Linked DNA regions of Homo sapiens. The protein of the gene in region 1 purifies or fractionates together with the protein of each later gene. This does not show direct contact. Each region holds a gene or a part of one and is shown on either strand. Other genes may lie near its edges.

The links.
Region 2: the proteins of GALR3 (region 1) and TMED8 purify together in Homo sapiens (affinity purification with mass spectrometry; one large-scale study listed by BioGRID and IntAct). This does not show direct contact.

Annotation. Positions count from the first base shown.
Region 1 is NC_000022.11:37,821,882-37,826,075, reverse strand, and holds GALR3 (galanin receptor type 3), read right to left. Parts: upstream 2,695-4,194; 5' UTR 2,670-2,694; coding exon 2,311-2,669; intron 1,354-2,310; coding exon 606-1,353; 3' UTR 591-605; downstream 1-590. UniProt on the Homo sapiens protein: Receptor for the hormone galanin. Receptor for the hormone spexin-1.
Region 2 is NC_000014.9:77,342,437-77,346,244, forward strand, and holds part of TMED8 (protein TMED8), read right to left. Parts: intron 1,403-3,808; coding exon of another isoform or gene 1,388-1,402; coding exon 1,261-1,387; intron 1,048-1,260; coding exon 742-1,047; intron 1-741.

The DNA.
Region 1 (4,194 bases):
TTAATCATATCTATTTGCAAAGCTGTTTTGACAAAGAATGTAGCATGAGGCATATGGTACCTGCTTAATAAATGTTTTTAGAGACAAGGTCTTGCTTTGCTGTCTAGGCTGGAATGCAGTAGCGTGATCATGGCTCACTGCAGCCTTGAACTGCTGCCTCAAGCGATCCTCCCGCCTCGACCTCCCAAAACGCTGAGATTACAGGCATGAGCCAAGCGCCTGGTCCCACTTAAATATTAGCCATTTATTAGCTGTTGATGTTAAATTACCTAGGACTGAGCTTGGAACCAAGAAGGAGATAGTTAAGAGGTGGTGGAGGAAGCAGGGCCTAGGTGTCACCCAGTTGGAAGAATGGGCAGAGGGACTGCCAGGCTGGCTCTGGGCAGGCTCTGGGGGCTGCCCTGCTGGGGGCGGGCTGTGCTGTTCATATTCACACCCAGGGGTGTCCACTGGGCTGGTGCTCCGCTGTGGAGCGGGGACAAGTCGCTCCACTCAACGCCCCTCAGAGAGCTCGTGGCATTGCCCCATCCCTGGCCCGGTGGCGTCCCGCCTTCGGAGAACGGGAGTGAGACAGACGGACACAGGCGGAGTCCAGGCGGCAGGGTTTATTCCGGTCCTCGGGCAGCCTCTCCGCCGTGGACGGGTCCCTCCCTGGGCTCCGGGCCCTGGCCGCCACCAGCCAGCAGCCTCCCGCTAGGCCGGGCGTCTCCGGGGCAGCCGGGTGGGCCCGAGGACGCGGGGCGGACGCGACGCAAGGCGCGGCGGGCACGGTGGCGGCGTCGGCGGCCGCACGGCCACAGGCGGCGGAAGCGCGCGCGGAAGTGGCGCGAGGCGAGCGCGTAGACGAGCGGGTTGAGGCAGGAGTTGGCGTAGGCCAGGCAGTGTGAGGCCAGGCGGCAGGCGTAGGTGGCCGGGCTGAAGGCGAAGCGGCCGTACCAGAAGCACAGGATGAGCGCGTGGTGCGGACCCCAGCAGAGCGCGTAGAGCGCGGCCACCGCCAGCATGGCGCGCCCCGCGCGGCCCGTCGCCCTCCGCCGCGCCTCGGCCGCCGCCGCGCCCGCGGGACCCACGGCGGCCCACAGGAAGCGCAGCGTGCGCCCGTAGGCCAGGCTCACCACAGCCACGGGCAGCAGGTAGCCGGCAGCGAAGGTGGCCACGTCCAGGGCGCGGCGGCGCGCGTCCTCCCAGGCGGGCACGCAGAGCTCCAGCGCGCCGTAGCGCACGGTGCCGTAGTAGCTGAGGTAGGGCGCCGAGAAGAGCGCCGCCAGCAGCCACACCAGCCCCACTGCGGCGCGGGCGTTACGCGGCGTGCGCAGGGCGCGCGAGCGCAGCGGGTGCCGCACGGCCAGGTACCTGCGGAGGGCGCCTGGTCAGCGGGGCGGGCAGGTGCCCTCCCGCAGGGGCCCGCGCCACGTCCCGCGCCCGGGCCCTGCGGCCCAGTGCGCCTCCTGTGAACCGTGGGGGACGTGGCGGGGATTAAGGGTGTGAACGCGCAAGGTGCTTAGGCCCTTGCACCTAGCAAGGGCCCGATCCCGGTGACTTGTTATTTCTAGGATTATTTTATGGATGCGTCAGATGAGGTCCAGAGAGAAGTGACTTGCCCAGGGTCATCAGCTGGAGTGAGCCTGGATTTGACCCCAAGTTTCAAGCTGTGGAAGCAGATGTGTGCACAGCTTGGCCAGGTGTGGGCAGTTAGAAAATAGCTGGGCTGGGCGCGGTGGCTCACGCCTGTAATCCCAGCACTTGGGAGGCCGAGGCGGGCGGATCACTTGAGGTCAGGGGTTCGAGACCAGCCTGTCCAACATGGCAAAACCCCGTTTCTACTAAAAATACAAAAAATTAGCCAGGTGTGGTGGCCTGTAATCCCAGCTACTCAGGAGGCTGTGGCAGGAGAATCGCTGGAACCCAGGAGGCAGAGGTTGCAGTGAGCCAAGATCCAAAAAAAAAAAACAACAAAACAAAACAAAACAAAAAAACTGATGAACGCATTCGTGAGCTTCTTTTGCGATTCATTTCGCGCTTACAGAGCACTTACTATGTGCCAGACCCTGTGCTGCCACTTGAGACTCAGAGGCGTCCTCTGGAAGTTCACAGTGGAGGAGGGGAAGGGCAGGACAGTCCCCTCAAGCACGCCCTGCAGGTGCCCAGAGGCTGCTTGCGAGGGGTCAGGGAGCTTTTGTTTCCTCCCACCCACCTCCCTTTCTGGTCCCCCACTCTCTCCTTCCTAAGGCCAGTGAGGATCTGTTCAGGACTCCTCCCCCAACCCCCGCCCCCACAGCCCTGCCCAGCCAGGCCCCAGGCACAGCGCACCTGTCCACGGAGACAGCAGCCAGCGTAAAGCTGCTGGCGTACATGGTGAGGTAGATGAGCAGGTGCACGGCCTTGCAGACGAGGGCCCCAAAGAGCCAGGCATCCAGCGTGTAGATGGTGGCCTGGAAGGGCACGCAGCACAGGATGAAGCAGAGGTCAGCCACCGCCAGGTTGAGGATGAACAGGTCCGTGGTGCTGCCAGGCTCCTGCCAGGCACTCGGGCCAGGCTGCAGGAGCACTGCCAGCACCAGCCCATTGCCCACTGTGCCCAGCAGGAAGATTAGGGCAAAGACCACAGGCACTGCCACGGCCCCCACACTCCCTGGGCTGTCCAGTGAAATGTTCTGGGCATCAGCCATCTCCCCATCAGACGGGCACCTGGGAAGAGAAGCTGGAATCCTCAGGCAAGAGCCCCCAGTTCTGGTTGCTTGACCCCGGGATCTAACTCCCCCGACCTGGGTCTGGCCAGGTGTTCTGGGCTGGAAGCTCGTGGGAGATGGAGGAGGGGAGAGCAGAGCCAAAGTCATCGCTGAGTGTCACTGTGTGAGCAAGCTCGTGGTGTTCAAGGGGTGAGAGTTCCTCAGTTTCCTAAGGAACACCCCTGGAGTCCTGCCTGGAGGACTACCTAGGTATTTGAGGGACACTTTCAACCCACGAGGCTGGGGAAGGCACAAGCGAAGTAGGATGAAGATATGGCGATGGGGGGAGGGGCCAAACCCAGAAACTGGTATGTTTTCCTTCTCAATGGGGATCTGAAGCTCAGGGGAGACCCTGGGACATGGGTTTAGGGCTTTCTCTGGCTACAAGCTGTAGCCTTAGCAAAACACGGGTAACATCCCTGAGTCATTGGAGGGTCCAGTATAGTGAGATCATCACAATGGCAAAACTGGGAAGACCGTGTAGGTCACTGCTTCCTCTCTGCACATAGGGAAATTGAGGCCCAGAGAGGGGACATGGGAGGATAATATCACACTCGAAATGGCAGCTCTGGGGCTGTTGCCACCCTGGTATCCTGCCTCTTAAGCTAGAGTGCTCATCTGAGAGCTTGTAACAGGTGGTGCCTCTGACAACTTGTGTGTGTGCACACCGCACCCATGCTCACCCCCATCCCACTCTACAGCCCATGTCTCCTACTGCCTGTGGATCTCCTTGCAGGCTTGAGACCACTGGGGTGGTGGGACAAAGTAGGGGAAAGGGGGGTCAGGCAGGGAGTAGGGAAGAAAGGCAATGTCTGCCCCCATCCCAGCACCCAGCATGCAGTAGGTCCCCAAAGCCCAGGATGGGCAACACCCACCTCCGCCTTGGGCAGTGGGCTTGATCCTGGGTGGAATGGCCGGGCTGGGTGGGCCTCCTGATTCAGCGGCTGCCCCTTGGTGCCTCCCTGCAGGTACTGGTCTGCCTTCTACTTCTCCCCCTTTGCCTTTAAGGCCCCTCCTCTCCTCTGCCCCCTCTGCTGAGCCGGAGTTGGGCACTCCCTCTGGAGTAGCCACTGGCCACTTCCTCCTCAGTCCCTGATTTCCCCCAGGTGGCAGGCTCTTCTGCCTGGCTCTTCTCTGCCTCTCTGCGTTGCTGCTGCCTTTTCCTCTCTCTGCAGCCAGTAACCCATTGATCTCGCTCTCTGTGATTTGCTTTGTAGTTAACCCCTCTGTGCCCAGGGCCCAGCCAGTCTCTGGCACTCCCACCTCCTGTGGCCCAGCCTGATGTGACTCCATCCCCTATCCCTGCACCTTCTTGCTCCAATCCATGTTTAGAAAAGGTTCCTAGGCCGGGCATGGTGGCTCACGTCTGTAATCCCAGCACTTTGGGAGGCTGAGGCAGGCAGATCACTTGAGGCCAGGAATTCGAGACCAGCCTGGCCAATGTGGCGAAACCTTGTCTCTACTA
Region 2 (3,808 bases), on another chromosome or scaffold:
TCCTGAAAAGCAGCAAATAAGATACAAGGTTCTCCGCTTTCCCAGATACCTGTAGGTTTCCCTGCCCGCTTGCTGTTCTATGAAGAAGCACGTTAAAGGACTGACTTTAAGATTATATAAGAAAATCAAGGAATAAGAGGAATAAGACTAATGCTTAGGACCTACTCTTACGTTATCTGAAAAATGCCTCTGGGCCATCCTTTGTGTAGTGTGTAGACACTACAAATAACAGCCGGAATGGAGCCCGGAGACCCTTTTAAAACTTGTCTGGGCATGAAGTAAAGAAGTAACCAATAGCCAGCTATGAGAGTTTGGGATAAGGAGAGAATGGATACCTTTAGCAAACTGTAATCACTCACTTTGGTTCCAGGCCAAGAATAAATATCTACAAACTAAGAGAGAGATGTAAAATAATCTCTGGCTTACATGCGACCTGAATGACCATCCCTCTAAACTGCCGCATGACTCACCCTCTCTCTGCTCCTGCCCCATCCCTGCCCCCAGGAAGGTGTTGGGAAAACAATGAGGTACCGATAAGGAAAAAGAGGCTTTCTTTCAATTAAGGCAGCAGTATCAACCCCACCAGAATGTTCTCTTTGGCCTGTACCACTCAGCTTAGCTTGTAATGCTGAGTTTCTCAACTGCATTCAAAGGAAGAGGAGGACTGGTACAACCCACAAAATGGTCACCAGAAATCAGATTAAGCCAGAAAACTGCAAATTAGGTTAAAATTAAATTTACCTTCAATCTCTTCCTCCTCTTCCTCTTCTTCATCCTCATCGTCACTGGAATCACTGACCTGCACAGTTATGTCAGTGCTAGTTACAGGGGTCCAGTCAAAATAAACTCCAAAGCCAATGTCATAGTCATCGGTCGCAAACTCCCAGCAGACACGCTTCCCCTCTGGATGAGTAGGTACCCGGATGGTCACCACCTCACCACGCTTCACCACCAGACGGCTGTTCTTCTCTTTGCCCAGCTTGCTTTTGAATTCCTTCACCTTGGCAAAGGTCCAGATGCATGGAGGAGCCATCAGAGGTGGGGAGACTGAAAGGACAAGCAGCTTAGCACTGAGAAACCATGAGGAAACATGAGTACCCCGGGCATTTTGCTAAGAGAGGCTGGCACAGTCAGACATTCTTTCTACTGGCTTGACTTCCTTTCACAAGTCATTTTCTTTCCTTCCATTTGTCTGTCTGCCTGCCTTTCTTTGAGTATCTACTGGAAACAAACCACCTCCTTTACTCCCAAAGGTCTCACCTTTCCTGTGGTCCCCCAGAAGATCTGCAGATTCCAAATCAGCTGAAAGAACATCTATAGCTCCTGTATGTTCAGACTGGATCATAACGATGTCCCCAGACCTCTGTGGAACTTGATACTTAGCCATCTGCACAACAGAACTCTGGTTAAAGGAGTATTCGAGTGGCAGATTCTAATTAATCTCTTTTTGCATGAAGGCTGCCCCACCCCTGCTCTATTATCTCCACTATCCCCACTCAAAGCTTAATGTACTAGTCAATGTTCCTTCTCTTTCTTCCAAATAGAAGTTGCTAATAAATTCTACTAATTTTTTAAAGCCATCAAAATATTCCATTGTTTAAAGACTGTTTCCTACCTTTTGCAACTTTCCTGCTCCAAACCCTTTATAAGGTCCTTGTCCGCCAACACCCTCGCAGGTTGTTAACAGTATTTGCATTGACTGTGATTCTGGGCCATGCCTTGGTCTTACCTCACCTGCACAGTACCTCCCTGTGGCTCCTCTCATTAATAGCTCTTGCTCCTAGGGTTTAGTTTGACTCCCACTCTGCCACACATCCTCCTGCTACAATTCCCACTCAAGGGTTACTTCTACATTACTGTCAATCAGCTCTCCAAAGCACTGCAGAGACAGAATCTGGTTTATAGTCTTTCTCTCTCATCCACAGCCCACCTCGGGCTACAGATTGTCTCAGTCTTGAAGTCACTAACAGTGTTCTATCAATAGTTACAATTTCACCTTAGACCAGCCCCAGGACTTGCATTTAAACAGTACATTTGCTGCCAGACGTCTGACTTACATGGAAGAATGCAAATGGCATTTGATACTCAAAGCCCTCACTAACCCATGCGGGAGCTTACAATGTCTCCCTGGTGAGTTTCCCTTCAAATCACTCAGATTAGTGTTCCTGGTTTCATGCTATTATACCTTAATTTCTGCCCCTTCTCCAAACAGTTGGCAGGCAACTCAACAAGAAAACTATACCTATTGCCCACAGGGGAGAGCACATCAGTGAGTCAGCAATCCAGTTAAGAGGCTGGAATTGTATTTGTGAGAAATAAATAAATCAAGTTTGTAATCCTCCCAGGCTGTATTCTCATAATATCTGTTTCTGGAGAATAAGCCCTCCAGTTCTCATCTCCTTTGCTAACTGAAATGAATCAGACTTTGGCTAGCGTGCTTAAATAAATCCTTCCTTTTCTAAAATGCTAAATAAAGGATTAGGTTGCAACATATTAGCTACATAGCCTTAGTAAAGTCTCTAACAGCCCTCAGCCTCAGTTTCCTCATTTCTTTCTTTCATTCCTTTTGAGACAGAGTTTTGCTCTTGTTGCCCAGGCTGGAGTGCAATGGCACGATCTCAGCTCACTGCAACCTCCACCTCCCAGGTTCAAGCAATTCTCCTGCCTCAGCCTCCCGAGTAGCTGGGATTACAGACACCTGCCAACACGCCCAGCTAATTTTGTATTTTTAGTAGAGATGGGGTTTTTCCATGTTGGTCAGGCTGGTCTCGAACCCCTGACCTCAAGTGATCTGCCTGCCTCGGCCTCCCAAAGTGCTGGGATTACAGGCATGAGCCACCGGGCCCAGCCAGTTTCCTCATTTCTTAAATGGAGACACAATGGCACCTATCTGACAAGGTTGTTCTCAGGAGTAAATGAAGTGTTACAGATACAAATGCTTGTAAACTGTAAAGTATTATACAAATCTAATTATAACGCCTGGTGGTGTCTTCATTGACACTAATACCAACCATTATTCTAACACATATGCTAATAAATGATAGAAACAACCCCATCCCGCCCCCATCCCTCCATGGCAGGGGCACCACTACACCATCACTTCCATACAGCTACTTGGAAGGCTGAGGCAGGAGGATCACTCGAGCCCAGGATTTTGAGGCTGCAGTGAGCCATGACTGCACCATCGCACTGAAGCCGGGTGACAGAGTGAGACCTTTGTCTCAAAAAAAAAAAAAAAAAAAAAAAATCAAGGCCAGGCACAGTGGCTCACATCTGTAATCATAGCACTTTGGGAGGTCAAGGCGGGTGGATCACCTGAGGTCAGGAGTTCGAGATTAGCCTGACCAATATGGTGAAGCCCTGCCTCTACTAAAAATACAAAAATTAGCCGGGTGTGGTGGCATGTGCCTGTAATCCCAGCTACTCGGGAGGCGAGGTGGGACAATCACTTGAACCCAGGAGGTGGAGGTTGCAGTGAGCCAAGATCGTGCCACTGCACTCCAGCCTGGGCGACAGAGGGAGACCCTGTCTCAAAAAAAAAAAAAAAAAAAAGCTTCTGTGGAATCTTTATCATAAATACTAAATAGATCTACCACAAGAAAAGTAAGAGCAAAATAGTCCAATGACTTCAGGCTCCTCAATGAAGAGGATTTTAGAGAACACATGAACATTCACTCTAACACTTCGTTTTCTGAATCGGTGCCTACTGGGTGCCAGTACAATGATGGGCCCTGTGGAAGATACAAATAATCATTCTCCAAAAAATAATGAAGACCAAGATGCCCTAAATTAGAGGGCAAAGAGAGAA